Regions from separate parts of the Homo sapiens genome. Here region 1 is linked to region 2. Evidence: fine-mapped expression QTL. A gene starts in region 2. The other region holds a variant in brackets. All regions are shown on one strand. Distances are from middle to middle.

Region 1 (12,151 bases), 27 kb before region 2:
TTGCTGAGCATCCCCACGAATTCACTGGAACCGAGCAACGATTCTCCCTTTCCTGTTGGCTTTGCTACTTCGGGATTCGAAACCACTGGTTTTTGGGTTTGCTCGAAAGGAGACTTCTTTACGTTCCGCCCAAGTTCTCCCGATCTCTAAGCTTGAGCCTCTTTTGCTCTATAAGAAGACCTGGACGCGCCTTCTAAATCACTCTTATTTAGCCCAGATAACTCAATACTGTAATGCACCCTGTATTTAAGGCACTGGGCTTGCCCCATTAAAGCGCCATAAATTTGAAGGCCAATGATCGGTTTTCATGTAACGGGTGGTACTTCATACTGAAGTGACCCACTTCAAAGCTGCCCTTTGTTCTATGTCTTGATGTATGAATTTTGAGATGGCCACCTTGAGTTGCAGAGGGAAATGTACTGGAAATTATTATTTAAATGATGCCCACTCACCACAATTATGTATGTGTGTGTTTTCTTGAATTTTGTCTTTATCTCTTTTTTTTTTGTAGGCTCTTCAGGTTTCTTTTGATATCTGTGGAGGCGAATCTGGAACAAAATGGAAAACTCTCAGTAGCAGCCGGTTCTTGCTTACAAACACTTACATGTTGAAGGGCTTTTCCCACTTGAAGGACGTCATAGTCAATGTGACTATTGTATATGGTACCCGTGACCATCCAGACGCCTTCTCCCCGGCAAAACACAGACTCAGTTGGCTCCTGGGGAGCGAGGGCCCCTTTAACGCCAAAATCCATGGCTGGATGGGGGAGGGGAGAGCCCGGACGTGAGGGAAGCGCCAGACCCTCTAGCCAGGTGGGTCAGAGGTGCAGGGAAGCCAATCTGCTCTCCTCCTGCCCCTACCAAATTCTAAATGCTCCTCCAGGTCCCAATCCCGGAAGCCAAACACTCTCCTAGGGGCAGAAGAGAGAGACCGTGCAGAATTAAGGTGGGGGTTTGGCAGGGGAGGCTGCAGAAAAGGGCACCAGGAAAGGAAGGTAAATAGGCTTGGGTGGATCTTGGTCAGGGGCTGCTCTACAGAGCCTCAGTGAAGAGGACCTGGGCGCTAGTTCCTGATTTATACATTAAATATATCAGATGCTTTCCCTGAGTTTATTCATTCCGGTAAGTATCCACCACACTCTTGGCCCTGGGCTGCCCACTTCTGGGTCAGGATCAGACTGCAAATCGCCTAAGAAACAAACATCCTTTCCACCCCCACCCAAAGCCACAGACCAAGCTCCCCCACCACTGTCACCGCTCAGCGGGTGACCACCCCCCGTCAGGTGAAAGGAGAGAGACAGAGTCCCCCTCTTGCATCTGCCCTGTGCAATTTGTCGACTCAGTAGTTTGCGAGCACTAAACTACACCCGGGAAAGCCTCACACAAAGCGTTCCCGGCGCTTCTAAAGACTAAAGCGCGCAGCCATAAGCCTTTGAAGTGACCTTTGGCTCGCACCGCAATAACTCACCCCTTAATGAACACCCAACAGAAGCGCCTCGAAGAGATCCCAGCCCGGTAGGGCTCCTAACTTCGCGCTGCGGCTTCAGCTTCCCAGCCGGCCTGGACCCAGGGGGAAAAGCCACTTGCCCGCCCCCCTCCCCCAAGCGCTCTTGGCTGGGCCGGGACCTGAGGGTGGTGCGGTGGAGGCCCGAGGTACCAGGGCTCTCAAGCCAGCTGGTCCTGTAGCTGCTTTATATAATACATTCACGTGGGCGGACGTCAACTTTCGCCGCTTGATTATTTTTTATTTATTTATTTTTAAAAAAGAGTTCTTTAGAAGTAGGAGCATCCCCTCAAAAGAAGAGCTAAGTTGGGAGGTCACCCGGGGCCGCCACCCCCTTATGCCTCTAGCTAGATTTTTCTTTTTCCAGCCGCGGAGGAACAGGGTAAGTTTGCGCCTGGGGGTTCCGGGGTGCGCGGTGCGCTTTGAGCTCTTGGCGTAAGAGGCTTGGGAAGAAGAAAGGAAAGAGGACCCCAAGTTAACCAAAGTTGGACCACCAGAAAAGCCTTCAGCACCTTCTCCCACGCTCCCTACCCTGCCCACCCACCATCCCACGCGGGTCCAACTTTGGCTCCTTGTTTGCCCAGATTCTCAGCCTTAACCGGGCTGGCTTTGGACCACCAGCACTGGTGCTCTTTCTGGAGCCAAAAACGGGAAGAGCAGGAAGGAGCTGCGTCCGTGAGCTGTCAAGGAAGAGCTGAGTCCAGGCAGCCCCAACCCTACACCTCATCCCTCAGCAGCACCCTAGGAAAACTCTTTAGGATAGGGCCAGCGTGGAGCCTTGGTAGGGATTATTGAAATTTTCGGGGGAAGTTATAAGTGAATGCTCCATGGGGCCAAATGAAATGCTACTCGCGGTAATTGGATTCAGCTGACTAAGCTGGCAGGCGCGCAGCTTCAAGGCAGCTAGCAAAGAAAAATGTCCAGCGACTTTCAGTTCTGATGAAGCCAAGCGCAGGAGATTGACAAAACAACTTTACTGCTCTCTTATGATGGCGAAGCCCCTGGAAGTCGGTTCCTCTCCTGCTAGGGCCTGTCCCAACCTAAGCTAAGGGAATGCTCCTTGCTTTTGAGGTTCTTTCCCCATAAAGGTCCGGTTGGGTCTGGCCCAGTGGCATTACCACGAGCATGGAACCACTCACTGGAGCTCCTGGAGCTGCTCACTCCATCCCTGGCACGGAAAGACCCGGGATGGGTTGTCTTCTCCTCTCCCAGCCAGTAGCCACAGGGAGCAAGTAAACAAAAGGAGAGATGGGATTCGTGAACCAATATATGATTTAGCTTTCATTCAGGGTTCTTTGGGGAGAAGGACCTAGAAACACTAAACCTTTTCTCTGCCACTACGGCAATCAAAAGCCTGGATTGGTAAAGGGAAATGTGGAGGAACCTCCCAAACTCTTCTGGGTAGTTTGGAGGTTCTCTCAAATTTTGGGAGGAAAAGCTCAGTAGCGTTTTAATCTCCCAAGAAAAAATTAAGCCAACAGCAAGAGGTAAAGGCTGTGTGTGGAGCTCGCTACCGGAACAATGCAGGGAGCTGGCTGACCACCGAGTTTATTTTAAATACATATAAATCAACCCGCCTGCACCCAGCCCGGCAGCTCAAGACACAGAATTAATATGACGCTCCATCTTACTTTGGCAGTAAAGTGTAAAAAAGTTTTAATTTCTTTTTCAGCCCATTCTCCTAAGTGCACATTTAGCCCCCAAATATTTCCTCCAGCACTCAATCCCCTCACCAGATCCCCTCCTTAAACTGCTACTACCACCCCCAATGCTGCCGGCCACCCTCCAAGCCTGGCAAGGTAGTGTCCTCCTAACCCTTTGGTAGGCGGGGAACGTCCCCACAAAGCGCGCCTTGTTACGATTAATCACCGTCCTCCATGTATATGTAGCAGTGTATCTAGGTCTACGCGGGCTGCCTCACCAATTGGCAATAATCAAGATCACAGATTACACAAAATAAATCATATTTAATATCCCGCTCAGGGCGGCAAGCAGCCCCGTGCCCAAAGATTTCCATTTTGTCATGCAATTGCTTACCTGGATCCCAATTTATCATAAACCTGGTGTCCTCGGCCTCAGAGTGGGCGCCAGTGGGGGGCAGAGCTAGCCTTCCCCCTTTGTCTGCAGACAACACTGTCCCAACCCTGGTCTTGCGCGCTCGCAGACACGGCCATATACTCGAGCACACGGAATTCCCGGTAGAACGGAACCAGGCTGAGGTTCAACTACCAATAAACGCAGGAGGAACGAGTTCGTAGTCCCCGAGCTGGCTTCGCCTGCGCTGCGCGCCCATCGGTCCACCCGCCCGCCCGTCCGCTCTCGGGCCCAGAGCGGCAGCCACCCGCGCCCCCACCCACTCCTGGGTTTCTGCCCAGCCCTCCCAGGCCCCCCAGAGCTTGGGATTTGTTTTGCTTGCGGAACGTGGTCGTTTCTGGATTTGGAGAGAGCCCCGGAAACCCCCTCATAGTCGGGAAATACAGACGCTGCCTTCAAATGCAAGCATATTTGTTCACGTGACCCCGAGGGAAGCTTGTACTGATTGAGGCTGAAACTTTCACGCCACCCAGTCCCGGAGCGCAGCCAAGCCTGGGGGCTGGAAGGAAGGGCGCAGGAGGCTTGGGACCTGGGCCCCATTCCTGGGGCAGACGCGGATGGGTGTGGGGCGGAAGGAAAGAACACATTTTCGCAGCTCCGGGCCGACTCAGTCTTGGCCTGGCCGCCCTCAGTGGGTTGGGGGCGTTGAGAGTCTCTCCCCACAACGACCTCTGACCCTGGCTGGGCCTTCCGCCAGACTGGTCCGGGAGCTGGAAATTTTAGAAACTGCCTCTCTTAGAAGCGTCTCTGGAGACTGCCGTGGAGCAGCAGAGGCTGAGGGTACCCCTAGCTTCCCGGGCCCGCGGAGTACTCCGCAGCCTCATGCACCCCGGCAAGGCGGCCTCCCCGCCGCGGAGGCCGACGCCCAGCTCCTCCCAGGGCGAGGACCCGCTCCGGCCCAAAGGTGGAAGCCGCGACTCTCAGCTCTGGCCAGTCACCTCAGAAAACCCCGCCACCACCACCATTCCGTGGCTCGTTCCGCGGACTCAGCAGCCGAGTCACCGCCACTTCTGAGACAGAAAAGGCGCGTAGCAGGCGACCCGGACCCAGAGCGACCTCCCCTCTCTGATCCCTGAGCACCCCAACCTGGTCCTTCGAGGCCTGGAGCCGCCTAGGCGCTGAGCCACTGCCCGCCGTGATCTGTGCGACTCCAGGTCTGGGCAGGACCCGCAGATCCCACAGGCCCAGCAACCGCCAAGCCGCGACTTCCCGCTTCCTGCGGCGCCTCCAGGAAGGCGAGGAGGACTGCGCAATGAGTCCTGGCTGGGCTAACCTGGGGGACAATGAAACTTATATTTTAGAAATATTAAACCAAGACAGATTCCCACCACTCTCCGAGTGGCTGGTGGGAATGATTCTGCAATGTGGGAAAAAAGAATTAAGCGTGCCAGCGCCAGCAGCGGACCTCCTGGCCTGTAATGAGCGCCCAAGACCCTCCCCCAGCCGGGGCCACACTCGGGAATCCCGCACCACGGGGAACTCTCCACCCTGTCCCCGAAGTTTTGGTTTCGTTGCCAGCTCTGCTCAGCGGCATCAGGCACAGTGAAATGCTCTGTTGCTGATTGCAGGGTCTGAGACCGGTGAAAGTGCCCAGCAGCCATAGAAGAGCCCCAGAGGAGTGGGTAAGGTCCACCGCATCCCCACTCCAGAGGCGCAGGAATGTCCTGGAGGCCCGAGCCCCCAGAACCGTCTACGAGCCCATCCTTTTGTTCACCTGGCCGGGCCTGGCCAGAGGCCCACTCGGGGCGTCTCTCGAAGCCGGATCGTGGGTGACCCCAGCCCACCCCCACCCGGAGGACCCCGCCCCCTAGCCTCTTGCCAGAGGCCGACCTGACGGCCAGCAGCAAGTGTTAATCCCCAGCCAAAGAGGGGGGCTGCTTTGCGGGAATTTGTCTCCAGGAAAGGATCTAAGCCTTCTTCAATCGGAGCATATGTTCATAGAGCAATAAACCGGAAAGATTTACAGTCCTCGCCCGGCCCCCAACAGTCTCGCACCCTTTCAGGAATTACTTACGATGATTTATCACACCAACCCGGGCAATTGTCACACTGATAAAATAGCCCGGGCCAGTGCCCGCCAAGCCGGGGCCTTGGGAGGCTGTTGGCTGCCGGGCTGCCAGCAGGGCTGGGGAAGCTTTTTGTGGGTTCCTCTCTGGGCCTACAAGGGGATATCTAGGTGGGTTGGAGTGGGTTGGAGTGGGGGGGGTGGGAGGGGAGACGATTCTCATTGAGAAAAATGCAAGCAGCTCAGAGAAAGCGCCTGGAATCTGCGCCCGAGTCACTCGCAAAGCACATAAACATTTGTCATCTTTGAATAATTGAATTAATGTGTTATTGTTTGAATGTATAATTCATAATGGGGGAAACTTTGTTTCTGTCCTGACGGGGAAATATACACACACCAAAAAATAAATGAAAACACACACACACACAAACACACACGCACACATAATCCCAAAACAACCACCACGCGCAGCCAGCCCCTGCTCGCTGAAATCATTCTGAAAGCCAATGGAGGTATCTCACAGCAACAAGAGGGAAGGAGGCGAATGAAGAGGCGCCCGGGTCGGAGCTGCAAGCTGGAAGAAAAGAATGCTCGCTACTGCCCCAGCCCACGACCCTGGCAAGCTGGGGATGGGGTGGAACGGAGCGGAGTGGCTCTTAGGACACCCAATTTTCTTGGAGTGCCGGTGAAAAAAGGCAGAAACGGGAGCGAGCAGAGAAACAGCCTTCTGCAGCCC[G/T]CACTGGCCTCTCCCCCATCCTCCTTTCCCCAGGCTTCCCGTCGCCCCGGGGTCTCCCACTCGGGCTGCAGGGACTTCTTCTCGCGTTTATTTTAGCTCTTCCAAAATAGAAATAAAAAATACAAACACAAAAATAAACGGGAAAGAAGAAGAAACTCGCTGGGGTGACAGAGGCAGCAGAACTTGGGTGGGGAGAGAGGAGCGGGGGGAGAGGCAACTCGGAAATCATTATCTGTTGGTTAAAACCTGCCTGGGGTAAAATTTCAACTCGATTTTATAGCCTTCTATTATGACGCAAAGAAAAATTTACGACCCTCGCTTGAAAAGAGGGCCAGGGCCTTTTCTCACCGGTTTAAGAATAGGCGGCAGATGCCGTGACAGCGACCATTGTTCCTGGTAGACACAGGCGACCAGGCAACCTCGGCCCGCGTGCGCCAGGCGCGTCCGCCAGCCGGGCCGGTTTTTTACAACTCCTGTTGTCTTGGAGCAGCCCGCGTGCACCTCGCCCCTCACCCCTCGCCCCCTGGCACCCTAGCGCCTCGCACACACACCCTCTCCCTATCTCTGTCTCTGTCTCTGTCTCTCCCTCTCTCACACACACAAGCGCGCGCGCGGACGCACGCACACACACACACACTCGGCCGCTCTCAGTAATTTTTCATAAGTGCAAAGCTTTGCTGAACCAAAGGTCACCATCCAAGCCACTAACAACTTCTCGCCGGCGCGCAGTTCCAAATCAGGAAGCAAAGGGAACTATTTGTCAGCGGCCGTGACAGCTAAGTTCATTAAGGATTTAAATCTGATGAAATAAAAGTTGCCAAAATATTTACCTGCGGCCGCGCTCCCGCGCCCGCCGGGGGCCGGGGGTGGAGGGCCGGGGGCACCGCGCGGCCCCCCTGGACGGGTGATATTCTTGGGATCCCTGCACTTTCCAAGTCGGAGAGAGCCCTTTGCGTGGCAGATTAATGACGACTCCGTGTTTCTTAAGGGACGTGCTGAATTAATTATTTCGCCAATCACGTGGTCGGGACTTGTAGAAATCTATTCTTATCATCTTCCTCGCACTTAGAAAATTCTCCGGGTTATGAAAGGCCCTCCCCCGGCTGCCAGCGAGCCCCGGCCGCCCAGCCCGGCGCGGGGGGCAGGGAGGGCTCCCCAACATGGCGGGCAGGCGGGCGGGAAGCGCCGTCCGCCGAGGGTCCCGATTTACTGTACTCTATACTCAGCGGGCTCTGCTATGGACTCGCTTCCTCCTCATCCCTGCCCGCGATTCAATACACACAACGGTATTGATGTATTGGTGGGCACGGGAGGAGCCATTAAGCAGAAGACGGGCAGAGGACAATCATAAAATGTGTCTGAATATTTAAACTTCTGCCTGCGCACTTATAAATACACATGTCCACGCGTCTGGGGCAAGCCCTTCCATATATTAAGGACAGATGTCTGATTTTATGCATTCTGCTCATTTCCTGTCTGGAACAAGCACCCCCATCTATTTTGGGACTCCTGTCTTGGCCCCTTCTTCAAGGCGAGGCCAAGATGTAAAGAAGCCCTTGCGGTAAATGTAGTGCAGGGCACTTTTTATAGTGGGGAGTGTTTATTGTTGCCTGAGGGGTGGAGGGGGCGCGGAAGAAGGAGGGGCAGGTGCTGGAGTCCCCACAGGAGCTTAACAGTACTGGAAAAGTAGAAGCCCAAGAGTGGAGGCCCGGGGGTCAGGTCAGAGCAGCCACCCAGGAGCCTCAGCTCGGCCCAGAACCCAGCACGCTCTCCCTGCCTTAGGGGTGGGGGACCAGTAAGGTGTCTCATCCACCACTTCCCAAAGACTTCCTCTGAGGGCTTCCAGACCAAAAAGGTCTGGGGCCTGGCCCGGGCCCAGCAGAATGCCAACCTGGATCCCCCTATTAACCTGGGCAATTACTTTTTCTTCAAAAAATTAACACCCAACACTCTGTACCCTGAATTCAACCCCAGGCTTCCCAATGCTCACAAAATATGGTGGCCAACTGGGAGTGTGTGTACATTAAGGAGGTGGTAATAATAGAATTGCTAAGCCTTACATGGTTTAACCTTCACACTTTAGGCACCCCCCAAAAAATGGTGCCTAATTTATTGCAGAAAATAATAACTTGTTTATGTTAAATGTTAGCTTTTAGAAGACTTAACAAAGGATGAATGCTTCTGTTAAGGCACCAAACAGGAGGGAGATTTTGCTACACCTTTTATTATTTTAAATATAGATCAATGAATTACATCAAAACTACAAGCAACAATTAGTATAAATAATACTTTAATCAGTGGCAGCAAAACATTGGTCAATTCTATTAAAAAAGCATCTCGTGTGAACAGACATCATGGGCTGACTGACAGTGTCATCTCCCAACAAAAGGCTGCGATGGACAAAGTGAGATGGGAGTCAGAGGAGCAATGTCCTCAGCAAACACTTCACTCTCCCCCTCCCCCAGTCAGGACCCCAACACGGTTTTTGTTTTTGTTTTTAAAACACCAACACAAACACTTCTGGCTCATATTTAAAGGAACAAACTGGAAACAAATAATAGCAAATGGGCATTGGAGCTTTTCCACACCTAGCTTTCTCCAAAGCACGTTCTCAGATGGAAACCCATTTCCTTCCCTGCCCTAAGTGGTTACGGGGCCCTACCCCTTCCCTGGCCCACTCCTGTGGGCCCAAATGGATGCTGGGGTCCGACTGGGACCTCAGGGTTGGGGGCTGCACTCTGGGCCATCCAGGCTCCATTAACATTTCAAAAGAATCCCTCCAAGCTGAGAAGGAGAGCTGAGACTTATAAACAAAGAAGTTGTTTCTCTGATTAAGTTACTTTCCAAAGTAGTGGGGCTATGTTTGAGAAGGAGCTTGGGTTTTCCTCATGAAAACATGTTTCTTGGCTTTCCTCTGGGGCAGGGATGCAGTCAGTTAAGCCTGTGTGGCATTTGGTATGAAACTGGGGGTGAGTAACCTGAACTTCTGAGGTGGGGGAAAATCTATACAACAAATCTCTATTATATATATGTAATTGGATGTTGTGAAAATATATACCTTTTTCCCCTTCTCAAAGAGAAGGTTCAATGTATAGACAGATTTGGGTTTTAGGAAAGCAGCTTAGCAACTTTCCAACTTGCCTAAGGATAGCGGCTCCTTTCAAATGGTACATCCAAAGACTGCTCTCCATGTTAGAGAGGAAAAAAGAAGAGAAGGGTAGTTAGAGTCCAAAAGGTTAGGGGTTTAGAGGTCAGTCCTCCCGGCTGAAATACAGCTAATCAAATAGAAAATTTGTCCTCTGGATGAACCTGATTCTGTAATTTACCCGAACTTCGGTAAAATACCTTTTCAGCTTCTCAACGTGAGGGCGTCAGAAAAAAGACGTCTTGACTATGTATGAACTCTGTGCTTTTTGTCATAGAAACAATGATGTGAATAATGCACGAATATCCATCTTTAATATCCCGACGTGGTGACATTCAAGTATTGCCATGTGCAAGTCTGAGAGCCAGGCTCACCCCAAGGAGAAACAAAGAGCAGTCCCCAGGGTCTAATACAAAAGACCAAGGCTTGGAAGACACTTCAGAGAAGCGGAATTTCAGCCTAGGGACTGCAGTGAATACCTGCCCTCAGCTCTCAGGAGACACAGCCAAAGAACAAGCCTACAGAGAAACTCTTTTTTCCCTCCCACTTAAATATATTTTTTAAATTACAACAGAAACCTTCTAAAGTGTTTTTGAAGTACTGAAAAAAATACCCCCCTTCTGGATCTTAAAATTAAATTTTAAGCTTATCCTTTCTCCCTTTCCCACTTTGGTCACTTTTTGATAGCTACAACCTTTTTTGGAGCCTGAGGCCTTGGGAAGACTGGTTTCATCTGAGTATATGAACTCTGGCCATTAACTTTGACTTCTTCCTCCTTATGCTTGAGGGTCAGCATTTTAGAAAAATGAACTTTGAACCCTTCCCAGGAGAGGCAGAAGAAAAACGACTAGAGGACATCTCCCCTGTTGAGAGTGATTCTTTAAAAAACCACTATTCTCAAGGCAAAGACGAGTGCTTGAAAACTTTTATACTTTTACAAATTCTGCTTCTAATTAATGAGCTGAGGAAAACTTCCTTAGATTTGGTTTTTAAAAAAATTAAAACTTCAGGGGGAAAAAAACTCTAAGGCTAACTTTTGTGGACTTCTAGATTCAATTAGGGTTTTTTTTTTTTCCTTCTTAAAGCAAGAGTTCCTCACCTTCCCACTTTCTCCCCACTGCACAGCCCCTCCCCTACACAGGCCATACACTAATTCCTGTAAAACACTGCTATATGAGGGTATTTAGGGCATTTGGAATCCAGTTGGAACAGAAAATTCAGTCATTATCTAATGACCCAGTGCATAGAGGTTTTGTTTTCTTTCCCCAGAAGGAAAATGTTGGACCATTTGTTGGTTTTTTTCCCTTTCCTTTAATCACCCAGAACTGGTTGTAAGCACAGTGCTGAAAAAAACACATGTGGAAATATATTTTCAAGAATGCAACTTTGAGTGAATCCTTTGCTTCCTTCTGGAAGGGTTAAGGCCCCCCTATATACATTTCCAGAGAGTGGGGAGGGGTGGAGTTCAGAAGTAAGTGCACATATCTCTGATTCTGCTCCCTGAAGTTCAGCCCCTTTCACCTTTTTAAGATTTTTGGCATGAAGGTGTCAGTTATTTCTGTACCACATTTCCCAACAAATAAATATTTAAGCAAATATCTAAACATAAAATAACCCATTTTTACTTCCTTCTTAGACCCATTTCTTTGGAGGTGGGGCCACTGGGAGCAAAATATATATTTTTTAATCACATGAAATTCCATAGACAACCCAGAAAGTCCAGAAATCCTGACCCAGCTCTCTGGCTTCCACTGAAAGCACCTAGCACAGGGGTGGCCAACCTTCTGCCTCAACTCCCCCACATTATTAAGCCACAAAGCACCCTGGAGGGGTGGAGTGGGGGAGAATGTCCAAATTCACAGTGGGATAAAGCATCCAACCTTCATTTGCAAATTCAAAATCCAAGAGCGGTGATTTTCATAAGTTTAATGACTCGCCAAGATTTTATGTTCTCAGTAGCTCCTGCCATATAATATACTTAGAGAGAGAATCCCGCCCCCCCTCCCATCCCCATCCCGCTCTAGGGAGGGGGCTGCCCTCGGGCAGGATGCTAACCTAGTCCGAGGGCGGCCTGCTTGTCCCAGGTCCACCCCACAGTACCTTAGAGCCCAGCGAGGTGACAGCAGGCCCGGCCTGCCCCCGCAGCTTCGGCTCAGCCTGGTGCGCAGGGAGAGATGGGCCCAGGGTCCCCACTTCTATAAGGTCGTCAGGTCCGTGTGGTGGTCTTTGGCCATCGGCTGTAAATGCTGGCTGGGGGCGACTGAGGAGGAGCAAGATGAGGAGGAAGATGAGGACGATGACCTGCCTTTAGTGTTGGGCAGCTTATGATCTTTTTTCCACTTCATCCTCCGGTTCTGGAACCAGATCTTGATCTGGCGCTCCGACAGACACAGGGTGTGAGCGATTTCAATCCGACGGCGCCTTGTCAGATACCTGTTAAAATGAAATTCTTTTTCCAGTTCTAGGACTTGCTGCCGGGTGTAGGCCGTTCGGGACCGCTTGGGTTCCCCACCGGTGTAGTTGGGGTTCACTGCGAGACAAAACAGACAGGACAGGCAGGTCAGCGCCCGGCCACTAGTTAGGCCCCTCGCCTCCGCCGCTCACTTCCTGGCGCGCCCCGAGGCCCGCGGCCCTCCCCGCGCGCTCCCAAGCTCGCTTGCTTCCTCCC
Region 2 (11,796 bases):
TATATAAAATGCCTTTAGTGACCCCCAGCAAAGTGGAGATGTTCAGTAGTAACCCGTCTATACACTTTCCTAGGGTAGGATTGAGGGGCTCTCCATCTAGGCAGTGGGATCCTGTCTGTGGCTACCCGTATCTCAGAATTTTTGAAATAATACTGCCCCCTTAGACTTCTGAACCCAGCCGGACTCCACCCCAGGCCCCAGGGGACGCCCTAGGAACGAAGTGATTGGGGGAAGGGGCTTAGACAGCGACCCCCCACTTCCCCGGGAAATGTAGGGGAGCAGCCGGACTGAGCTGCCCAAGGGGGTCGGCGCCCCAGGCTTCTTGGTGGCATGCTGGGGAGCGGGGAGGGGGCGATTCTTACCCGAAGGCTGCCGAGCTACAGGCGGCGGTCGGTCCGGGCGTCTGCTGTAATCCACTAGGCGCTGCCCGGCTGCGCTCACTCTCGGACGCAGAGACCCGCTCATGTTGGTGAAGAAGCCGCGCCAGAACCGCGCGGCTGCAGTCACCTCGAGCAGGCCGGCTGCTCCTGGCAGGCGGTGTCGGCGCCGGCGGGGGACTCGGCGCCCAGGGCCCCTTCCAGGCCCTCCCTCGCCGGGCTCCCCACCAGCTCCGGAGGTGGCGGCGATGCGGACCGAGTGAGCGGCGGTGGGGCCAGGCCGGGCGCCGGGCGGGAGCCGAGGCCGCGGCGGACTCCGCAATCCCGCAGCCGGTGACTGGAGCCCACCTCTGCAGAGACAAAGGTTAGAAAAAGAGGGGGTGAGGCTCTGGGAAAGCAGAATGCGGGGGGAAATTCGCCGGGGAAATCAGGAAAAAGGCCGTGAAGGCGAGCGGCGCCTGCACATGACCAGCCGCAGCCAATGACGACCGCAAATAGGTCATAAAAAGGTCTATTACCAAGTTGTAAATTTTCTTCAAACAAAAAGGAATTTACTGCAATTCCTTGCGGATTTTGCACATACAGCTCGCAAGCGCCATGTTTTTTCCTCTTCTGCTTTCTCTCTCCCCCGCCTCCTCTCTTCCTTCTCCTCCTCCTCTCTCTCTCCATTCTCTCTCTCCTTCCTCCCTTCTCTTTCTCTGTCCCTCTTCACCTTTCCCTTTTTCTTCCCTTCGTGGTTCTTCCCTCCCTCCCCGCCTCCTCTGTTTCTTTTTCTAGGATTTATTTGTGTGTGTGCGTGTGTGTGTGTGTGTGTGTGTGTGTGTGTGTGTGTGTTCTTTTCTTTGGTTTGGCTCAAAACCTCTGCGCAGTTGGCCATCGTGAAGGAGGGAAATGAACTCAATGTACTGCTCACGCTCTGGGGAAGCGATCCCCACAGCTACCTCCTCCCATCTCTCACCCTGTGCTAGTCACTTGGCTTCTCCTCCTCTCCCCTCAGGAAAAGGCCTGTCCCCAGAGGCAGCCAACCACTTTCGGTTTCCCCTCCTCCCTCTCATCTTGCAAGCCAGCCCCAGTTACCTTGGGAAGAAAACGAGGGATCTGCAGGCCAAGAAAATGTGCCCCCAACACACCACTCCAACATAAATTGGGGTCCCTCCCATTCCCGGGAGGTTCTGCAGTAGGATAATCACCAACCAGCTTAAAGGCTTCAAATGGTTTTAGGTACTTGTCAACCTCTCCGAAATACCCGTTTGAAACTCTACCACCTGGTCTTTCTCCACAGAAACATCTTTCTGGACAGACAGGGTTATGGTTTCTGGATCCCTTCTGAAACTCCTTGCTCTACGTCCTCCTCTAAGAGCAATTCTCATTTTTATGGAGTTTAATTCTAGTTCTCCCCTCTCCCCTTGCCCCCAAATATTTCCCAATTGAAAAATTTGTTCAACGCAATACTGAAAAGACATTTGTTCAGGAAAAGAGTGACTTCCTCAGATCAGCCTAGAAAAAAGAATAATTCCTTTTCCTCAAAGGCCGGTGTCACATTCCCTTTATATTTTTCACAGGAACTGCTCTGGTGAACTCCCCCTGAAAGTAAATGTCCTTGGCTGGCCTCCAGCATTCCCCTCATGGGCATAGCCATGCAGCCTTCAGAACCTTCCTGAAAGAGGTAACACCACCCCCCATCCTTTTAAAGACAGTGTCTTTACACTTCCAGTACTATGTTACAAATGTTTGCATCAGATACCTGTGTATAAGTTCTCTGCTATTAACATCTGCACACCCAGTAAGTGCCTAAGTGGATGTGGACTGAAGCAGGAAGCAGCACAGCACCCTCTGGAGCAGGCCATTTGTTATCCCTTGAAAAAGTTCTGATGACCTTGGATGTTTTTGATTAAAGGACTTTTGCTGCCATCTGTCAGCAAAAGTCATATTCTTTCTAGAAAAAAGCCAATGGGCCCTAACTTTGCTGGAGGGAACCGCAGCAGCAGCCAGGGCCCATTAAAATGTTCTCTCTCCTCCCATGTCCATCCCTAGATGCCCAAGGATTCAGCAAACACGGGGGAAGCAGAGGACACAAGAAGCTTGGATGTGAAATAGCACTTCCTTCTGTGTTACAGAATAAAACAATATTTTAAATTACACAAGCAGATGGGGCAAGTTTTTGGGCCCTCAGAAGCCCAGAAGACTTCACACTAGTATACTGGTATATACATGTGGAATTGAGCAAATAACTTGTTTAATTCCAAAATTTTCTGAGAAATAATCTCAATAGTCAATTTGCCTCATTATCCTCTCCCCATCTTACCCAAATAAAAGCAGAGCTTTATGACCCTCCCTTTCAACTTGGGGAATGAGGGCCGCAAAGACACTTTGCACTGAAAAGCAGCCATATTTGCATTTTTCTCCCCTTGTGCAGAGGTAAGCGATATATTGGGCTTTGTGGAACCTCACAAAATGGCATCCTTGAACTGACTTCTCTGAAAACCACTGAGACCCACATTCTCTTTTGTGTGTTTCTGGTCATTGCAAATGGAGAGCCTAAATCACTCAGAAGGCTTGGTTCTTTCATTCAGTGTTAACATTGGAGAGAACCATTTTTCTCTAAACGGTTTACAGACCTCACTAGGCAGACTGGTGCAGTTCAGGGCTGAAAAGTGCTGCCTGGGATGGCAAAGCATTCTCTGAAGGTTTATGCAAATTTCTGCAGCAAAAAAGTGTTCGCTTGTTGCCTCAATGCTTGGATGTTGACACATTTGAGCCCATTAGAAGGGCATCTTGTGCGCAAGTCACTGCCAGTCTGTCTGCATGAAACACCATGATGGGGGGTGGGGATGTCTAGTCAGTGTAAGAAAGAAGGTGGCGAGTGTGTGTGATGTGTAATTCCCCCAGGTCTTTATTTGAACACAAATCTATGCTCTTTCCCAGCTACAAAAGGAAACATTTACCTACATGAATAATCAACACTCTGGGCGTGTGTGTAAGCTATGTATACATACAAATTCATAATCTAATATATACCAGCTATTGCAACAGTCTGTCTGTACATGAGGTATGAATTTACCATGGTTTAGGCGGCCAGTGGGGCCAGAAGTTACACTTTGAGACCAGCACAGAATGCTGAAGAAATGACAATTTTATCTCCTCTTCCTTCCTTGATTTCCGTACCCACCCATACACAGGGCTCCCACCTGACAGTCTTGCCAACATTATTTCAGGGTTCTAAAAGTATCTGGTGAGCATCCTTGAGCAGGAGACAGCCAGTTTTGCTAATATATAAAGAAGTCCTGAGTCCCTTAAATCCAGGGCAGCTGGATTTCAGCCAGCACTGGTCTTTGGATGGTTTACACTGGAGGCTGTTCCCCAGCCTCTTGGCCCTTGGCATCCTTACTCTGTACCAGCTGACAGCAGAGTCTTAAGCAGTGCACAGAGCAAAACATTCTCAAATCCAGCATAGGCATTTGCAGCTGTCTCTTGGAGTGCAAATGTTTAAGTTCTGGGCCACCTGTGATTTAAAATTATCTTTCCTGGCTCAGGTCAGAGAATGTCACAGCCATCACTTCTTCCCAGCATGGAAAGCCAGGTGGTGCTTTCCTTCTGACCTGGCCAGTGGCAACATTTCTGTGTCCATGAAGCCACAGGCAAACAGCCTGATAAAACCCGATGAGGTGACCCTGGCGCAAAACTATAGGATTCCATTTTTCTTATCTATGTAATAAAAGCAACTCTGGAAATAAAAATTTACCCCTTTGAAAATAAACATGGTTAGAGAAAGCAGAGAGCTCTTCGATGACTACCTAACAAAGGTGCTTTCCCTTTTTCGGGAATGTTACTTTACTTGAATTTCTCCTCTTTTCTCCCGCTCCTCTTCCCCCCACTTTCCCCTGTAAAATGGCAGCTGCAGGAGCAGCCTCCAATGGAAAATGGATATCTTGTTAATAACAGATGCCAAACCCCAGCATCAACGCCGGCTCAGTGCAATAAGCTGTGGTGTAACATGGACTTTGCGTTGTCCCCCACTGGGCCTACAACTTGAGTCCTTTAAGAGGATCAAAGCTCTCAGAGCATCTTAGCAAGATTATTTAGAGCAAGATAGACTAGCCAGTCCTCTCTGAAAAAGAAGGGGCCCCTGCGGCCTTTTTTTTTTTTTTTTTAAACAGCGCGGAATGTGTGTAACCCCACCCCTTTCTTATTAAACAGAAGCCTTGAGCGAGTCCTTTCCTTCGTGCGAGCCCAGGCGATTGTTAGTGATTCATGGAAAAGGGGTATTTGCGGCGCTCAAAGACACTAGCTCCAGAAAGAGATTCATTTATTTACTAAGGAGCTAGCGACATTCCGGAGTTGTTTACACTCAGGTTTTTCTGCGTTTCCTCTCAGGGCTTGTTTCAAATAGGTGAGGCTATCGCTTTCCTGAAGAACAGCGGAGGACGTACCAACCGACGTCTGAGATGCACACAGCAAGCTGGTTTAAAACCAGCGGCGAACAGAACAAAGGCAATACAAATAAATATGACACCTACTGAAAATAACGGAACACAGCGGCAGCCACCGCATAAAGAACTAGCGATTTCAGGCGATTACAAGGGCGGTTCAAAACGAAAGCAAGTTAAAAAATGAGACGCATTTTACAAGGCGATTTGCCAGAGTTGCCAGATTATTTAATTTGTATGGACTATAGAAAAATAATTGTCAACTTGGACATTGTCTTTAAATTCTTGTCACTGGCCCAATCTTTTTCTTAAGTTTAAGGAAGCTGCAGAGCTGGACTACAAGTTACATTCTTCAGCTAATACGTGCTTTTCTAATATTTTCCCCGAGATATTACATTTAGAAAATACGCAAAGAAACCTTTTAGGAGTAAACAAAACGCACCCGAACTATTCATTATAAAGGAAAGAATAAAAAATCCATAAATAATACATTGTAATCAAATAATATAAAGTATTCTGCAGACATAATTTTTTTTAATTAATAAACTCCTTTTAATTTACTCACCACAAATATTAAAATGTTCAAGTGCACTTGTTTAATTAATAAAGCATTTTATATGCAATTATTAAGTGCTAATCATTAGGAAGTTTACGTTGTTGAGGCAAATCACTAGCTCAGACATTAAAAACCATTATAAAAATATAGCTACAAGGTCAGTATCAAATTACCCTTCCATAGGACAGCTCAAGGACAGCTTCTATGTGATACTAGAAACTTTTTTAAACACCCAAATCCCTCTCAAAGCACAGAAAACCTCAAGAGCAGTGACATGAAGGTAGCTTGAAACACAGGTAAGGTCCTTTCCAACAAAGAAAATAGGTGGTGTCCACAGCATATGGTGATTATTAGTTTTAATAGTCTGTGGTAAATTTTAAAGGTAGAAGTTAATTTGTCAGGCCTTCGGCTCTGTCTTCCTCCAGCTCTTGGGCTTCCTTTTTCGTTTCCCCGTCCTTCACCTCCTGCCGGGAAACGGGAAATTTGTCCTTGTTGTTTTCCTTTTTCCATTTCATTCTCCTGTTCTGGAACCAGATTTTTACCTGTCTCTCGGTGAGGGCTAGGGCGTGGGAAACCTCGATTCTTCTTTTCCTGGTCAGATAGGGGTTAAAAAGAAATTCCTTTTCCAACTCTAGAGTTTGGAAGCGACTGTAGGTTTGTCTTCCTCTTCGTCTACCAGGAGCTGCTGATTAAAACAAAAAAAAAGGGGGGGGGAATAAAAGTTTTAAAAATGTTATGGTACCTCTGCATGTTGCTGGAGGTTTGTGGAACGGGGGTCTACGGGGTGAAATATACACAGAGCTCTTTAGCTCCGATATATATATATAGGGTGTGCAGGCAAGAGGAGCAGAGAGGTCTTCACAATTATTCTGTCCCCATCATCTTTACATGGTTCCTACTTTTTTAAAAAAAGTCTGTATTACTTTATGAATAAGAGCCACTGTGGCTACACAAGAAGGAAAAGGAGGGGGAGAGGGAACGGGAGTTTTAAAGCCAGAACGTGAGATGAAAGCAGATTTCTCCCCCTCTCCCTTCTTAAAAAAAAAATGCATCCCAACCTTGTGGTCTCATCCACGGAAACATTTGAGAAGGAGACGAGCTCTGATTTAAGTGGTCTGGGTCCTCGCCAATATTACCACTGGACGATTTACAGTCAGGATATTGTACCAGCTCGGCCTCTTGCTGGGTCGTAAAAATCGGCTGTCTCTGTAAGTTATCGTATCCGTAAAACTTCGCGGGCTCCCCGTGACAGGCAATCCCGCCGCAGGGGGGAGGTGGCGGCGGAGGCGGAGGATGCGGAGGAGGAGGGGGGGCGGCCTGGTAGGCAGCGGCCGGGCTGCCCCCGCCGGGGTGGAAGTACTCCTGGCCCCGGCCTTCCCTACCGCCGCACCCAGTCCCGGAGGGCGGCGGGGACGGGTGCGGGTGCGCGTGCGCCTGCGGGGGCGCGTGCGGGAAGCCGGCGGCGCTGTTGCCATAGAGCTGCAGGGCTGCTGCGGCGGCGGCGTGACGGCCGCCGACCTCGGGCGCGAAGTGACAGTCGTAGTAAGTGGGATTGATGGCCTCGCCCGCCGCCGCCGCCGCCGCAGCCGCCGCCTTGTACTTGGAGTACAGCGGGTTCACGAAGTACGAACTCATTGGGGCGTCAGCGGCGGCGGCCCCGGGCGGGCGGGCGGCGCTAAGCAGCCAGAGAGCGAGCCTCGACTCGGCCGCACTGCCGCGGGGGCCTGTGGGGCGGCTGCTCTCGCCGCCGGGACCGCCGGGCTACGTCGCTGCTGCCGCCCGCCCGCGCTCGCGCGTCGCTTCTGAGGCCAGGCAGCCGCGGGCGCTCAGCTACTGGGCGCTCATGCCCGGCTCTTGCGCCCGCCGCCTCGGCTTCGCGCCGCCTCCCTCGCGGGTCGCGGGGCCTCGCCCAGCCCCCGCGCGCCGCCGCCCTCCCGGCCTTTCCCGGCGCGCCCCGGCTCGGCCGCAATATAATCGCCGACGCCCCAGGCGACCTGCCCCGCTGCCTCCACTGTTTCCTCTCAGGCACCAGTGACTGAGCGCACCCGGACAAGAAAAAAGTGCGCTCGGCCCACGGGGACACTCTGGCCTCGGTTTACAAACCCCGGCTCTGGAGGGAAAAGAAAAAAAACACCCTCTGCCCGCCGCCACCTCTTACCGCGCCCCCCCCGCGCCCCCCTCCCGCCAATCTCGCCCCCGCCGCCGAGGCTGCCGACCCGGTGCGCACCGGCGAGGCATTTTCGCACCACAGCACTGCACGGAAAGTCAGCGTGACGGGGACGAGGAGCCCCGCGGAGGGATCCGCGCGCAGTTCAGTCGCTACGGCCGACGGACGGAGCGCCGCGCCCGGCCCGAGATGCCTCCGCCGGCCTTAAAGGGGGCCCATAAAGACGCACTGCCAAGGGCTCCGTGTGCCCCGGGGCCGCGGGAATGCGGATCGCAGCCGGCAGGGAGGGGCCGCGGCGGAGCCTTAGACTTGGGGGAGCCAAGGAGGCCACTCCCAGGAGGCTGCGGAGCAAATGACTGCCTCCCCGAGCCCCTGGCTGCAAAAGCAGAGGTTGCCCGTGGCTTTTGCAGCTCTGGACACGCGGGTGCAGCCCAGGGAACGTGGACAAGAGGTGTTGACGGACCGGACCGTGCATTTGAGTTGGGGCATATCGAAGTGGTTTAATTAAAAGCCGCGAGTGTGGCCCCAGATCCTGGCGTTATCAAAGCAAATCAAAGCCTTTCTTTTCCAGCCGAGCGGGCCCTGTGGAAATGAGATGTACATTTACCCTTGACGCACCGCAAGCCTGGCCGAGGCTCTCAGGTTAATTGATATTTAATGGAAATCATGCCCATGAATATAGTTTCCATCATTTCACCCTTGATAGACGTCAGCCCTGGGCGCAGGGGGAGGCTGAAGAATGCAGGAGGGGGCATTAGGCTTGCTGAGAGAGTAAATAGAAGAGCGGACAGAAACGTTCTGAGGCGGGAAAAAGGGCTCGCGCTGGGGAGGGTGACATTTCCTCGGGCAGGACGCGGCTCCCGGGTCTCAGCCCCGGCGCGCAGCGAACCAGGGCCGGCTGCGGTTCCCGGAGGAGTGCGGAGGGCAGACGACCGCAAGTTCCCCCCAGGAGCCTCCCAGCCGGCGTTCAGATCGCGCCGGTTCCAGGCAGCTGCAGGCGGCCCATCTTATGCTAACGATCCTACTTCCTCCGCCAAGCCTGTGAAATTACTGCCGAGAGAGCGCGCAGGCCTCAAAGTTACGAATTTTTCCCAAAGCAGAGAAAGAGAAGGCTCAGCCTAGTTTGTGAGCAGAGATGAAGAAAAGTTGCCCGAGTCATGTGGCCCAGTCGAGTGTGAATCGACAAAATATTCCCGATTTTAGCAGCTCTCTCCAAAGCTGTCTGGCTTTACCCTACCAACCGCCTCCCCACACACTTCCTTTCCCTCTCTGCTCCCGTTTCAATGTCCAATAAATGCAATGGTTCTCTGTTGTGTGTGTGTGTTTTCCCCTCTCCTGCTCGGCCTTTCTCGTGGGCTCTTTGGGTGACTGAGCCCCGTTTCCTTCGGGATAGGTACAATGTCGTGAGGGCGCCAGGCCCACAGCCTTGGAAATAGACCTCCAAGGCGCCCCTGCTCAAGCTAAACGCACCACGCCGGCTTTCCACACCAAATGCAAATTTCCGAAAACCCCAGACGGCCTCAGAGATGCTGCAGGCTGGCGAGCGATTTCAGCTACCCCTAGCTCCTTGTGGGTTGGCCCAGCCTGCGAGCGCGATCCTGACTTGTGTCCGGGTGGACTGAAATATCATTTTTACAAATGGAGAAAATGAGATCGAGATGGACAGACATAGCAAGGTGATAATGTCCGACTCAATTATTTCTACTGGGAATGACTGAAAGGTAAAGGAATCGTTAATGAATCTGGAGATGACAGAGGCATGCTTTATTTAATTTTTAAATTAGTAAGGAGTGCAGACTTGGGGTGGTGGAGAGCAAGGGTTTTTTTGTTGTTGTTGCTGTTTGTTTTTGTGGGGTTTTTTTTCTGCTGGTTATTGCCAAGTATAATGACTTTCTTTAAATCCGAAGGCGAACGAATTGATTCTGACAATTAAGGATTTGTCCTTCAATCTTGCAAATGCCCAATTAAAAGATTATTATTGTCAATAAAGCCTTGGAGCTACCTTTGTAATTGTGCCCCTTTTTTTCAGTTTGGCGTGTGTGTGTGTGTGTGTGTGTGTGTGTGTGTGTGTTTGAACCCTGGATAAATGAGTGGATTTTGGAATGGAATGGGGGGGGGGAAAATGAAAGAGCCTGGATCTCAACAATACCAGGCATCTTGTAGAACTGTGTGATTCCTCGGGGGAATAAAAGAAAAATGAACACTAGAAAATTCATTTATAGACATTCAGGCCAAATTTAGAAAACGTTACAACATTTCCTCTTGGGACAAAACAGTTTTTAACATTTATTTAAGCATTCCGTTTATAATATGAGTAGAAAAAGAGCGCGATTAACTTAGTAAGAAAAGATCTATGCTTTTTACAGCTTTCTGTTTTGATATAATACATTAATTTATCATGTTTTATAGTTTCAGCTGTGCCACAGTCCAAAGTTTCTGAAGCCATGATCGAGCCAAAATTTTATGCCCAGCAAACACAGAAATTAATAGTACACCTTGTTTATTTTTGGTTAAAATTATCCTAATTTCGGATTAAAAATAAGATTGTTAATATTTTTAATCAAAACCTTTCTCCGCCGCAATTCCAGCTTTACGAGATCAGAAAGTGGAGCAACAGCGCTCTCTAGTGGCCAAATGCCACCTCCAGTCCACTGAATTTAATTTTTATTCATCTCAAACCAATTCTAATCTCGTTCTTCAATTTGGGGCTTGGACTGCTGACACTAATAATGCTTCATTCCTGTGACTGTCAACAAGTCAAGAGCAGCAAGCAGGAGCTCCTGTATGCCTAGGATATTCTAATCAGTGCTCCCAACAGCTTCCAGTAGTGTCTTTTCCAAAAGCTTCCAGCCCTTCTTTTGCCAGACACCAAAAGTCCCCATGCTGTAACCGCCCAGCTGTGCCTTTTAAAACAATTATAGGACAGGCTAGATTTAACAAAACCTACAACTTTCTAAATATCAACTGCCAAGAGGCTTTTTATTTTCCAGAGGAACCAGACACTTTGGCAACCAAGAAATTACAGAAATCAAGTATTGTTATGTTTTTGTTTTTCTCTTACAGCTGTTACTTTTAGGATTAAATCATGAATATTTGCTACTTTAACACTGTAACTTTAATGCTTTGGGGCCCACTTAGGTGGCCGATTTTGGGGGGAATCGAAGCCAAATCAAAAGCTTTTTGCTGGATCTCTGAGTGGCTGTCTGGAAAGTCCCTTTGCGCTTCTGTTTGTTGGAATTTCTATGGACAATAAATGGGATTTTAAAAATATATATCAAAAGTCATTGAACTAAGCATTCCACTAGAATTTTTTTTAAAAGCAATGACTATTCAATTGGCTTAAGTGTTTCCTGTTAGGTTAATCTTTTTACTCATCTTCAAAACTGCTTTCCTCCAGTTTAGGTGTAACAATTGTATTTTTTTATAAGTGAATAGACATAAATTTCAACAACATTTTGCTTCAAAGTTTGGAGTGGAGGGCCAGAGATTCTTGTGAATAGGCATCTAACTTCATCTTTTCCCGCGAACCACACTTCTGGGAGACTCTCACCTGGGTAAATGACCTAAGATCACTAACCACCCTATCCCCAGATAACAGGCCAATTTTTTTGTTTGTTTGTTTCTAAAGAACCAGCTAAACCGTGGTCATAGTCAAAATATTGTAAAATGCCATCTCCTTAGGCTACTTCCATTACCTGGTTCATTTCAAAAATCAGAAATTCATTCACCTCTTCCTTCCTACCTCTTTCATGTTTACTTCCTAGGTGCTCACACCTCACCTGGGGGCTCCCATGCCCCTGCCTTCTTGGTCCAACGCAGTCTTGTTTATATTTTATTGTCTAGATTTTAAGACCCAGTTTTGTCTGCATTTTTCCTTTTCTCCCACAAACACAAACATCAAAATGAGATGGTTTCAAAGCAAAGCACTGGGCCTGTCGTAAACTCATTACCTCCAGACGTCTGGCCCGCTAGATGGCTTTATGACACCTCGGCTCTTCCTGTTTTCAAAGAGCCCTAGGTACCCAGCTGGCCACAGTGGCAGGGGTGCGCAGCACCTTCTGCCGGATCTGGGCCTTCCTTGGCTTTCCCTCCCAGCCCCCCTATGCTTTTTCTTCGCGTCCCCTCTTTCATTGGGATCCCCCAAGATCTCTGCCACCGCCCCCACCTTCCACCCAGCTCAGGCCACTTGGCAGTGCTGCCTCTTTGGCCTGCAAATGCTGTGCTCACCCAAACCCTCACTTACAATGACCTTCATTTTAGCCCCTGAAT

Evidence for each region.
Region 1: its variant is fine-mapped to the expression of HOXD8 in testis (GTEx, PIP 0.95).

What each region holds. Positions count from the first base shown.
Region 1 is chr2:176,152,470-176,164,620 of GRCh38, reverse strand. HOXD3 (homeobox D3) reads right to left here and starts at 7,314. Exons shown (of 4, transcript NM_006898.5): 1 at 7,169-7,314; 2 at 453-548. It overlaps HOXD4 (homeobox D4), which reads right to left. Exons shown (of 2, transcript NM_014621.3): 2 at 11,395-12,013. The coding sequence ends at 11,679. RefSeq lists an enhancer at 8,851-9,354. The variant G/T (reference allele first, on the strand shown) is at 6,339.
Region 2 is chr2:176,125,566-176,137,361 of GRCh38, reverse strand. HOXD8 (homeobox D8) reads right to left here and starts at 7,657. Exons shown (of 2, transcript NM_019558.4): 1 at 6,419-7,657; 2 at 4,667-6,045. The coding sequence starts at 6,995. The coding sequence ends at 5,750. LOC100129455 (a long non-coding RNA gene) reads left to right here and starts at 6,834. Exons shown (of 1, transcript NR_187615.1): 1 at 6,834-9,537. It overlaps HOXD-AS2 (HOXD cluster antisense RNA 2), which reads left to right and starts at 264. Exons shown (of 3, transcript NR_038435.1): 1 at 264-741; 2 at 1,940-2,043; 3 at 2,412-2,521. LOC401021 (a long non-coding RNA gene) reads right to left here and starts at 750. Exons shown (of 2, transcript NR_148241.1): 1 at 363-750.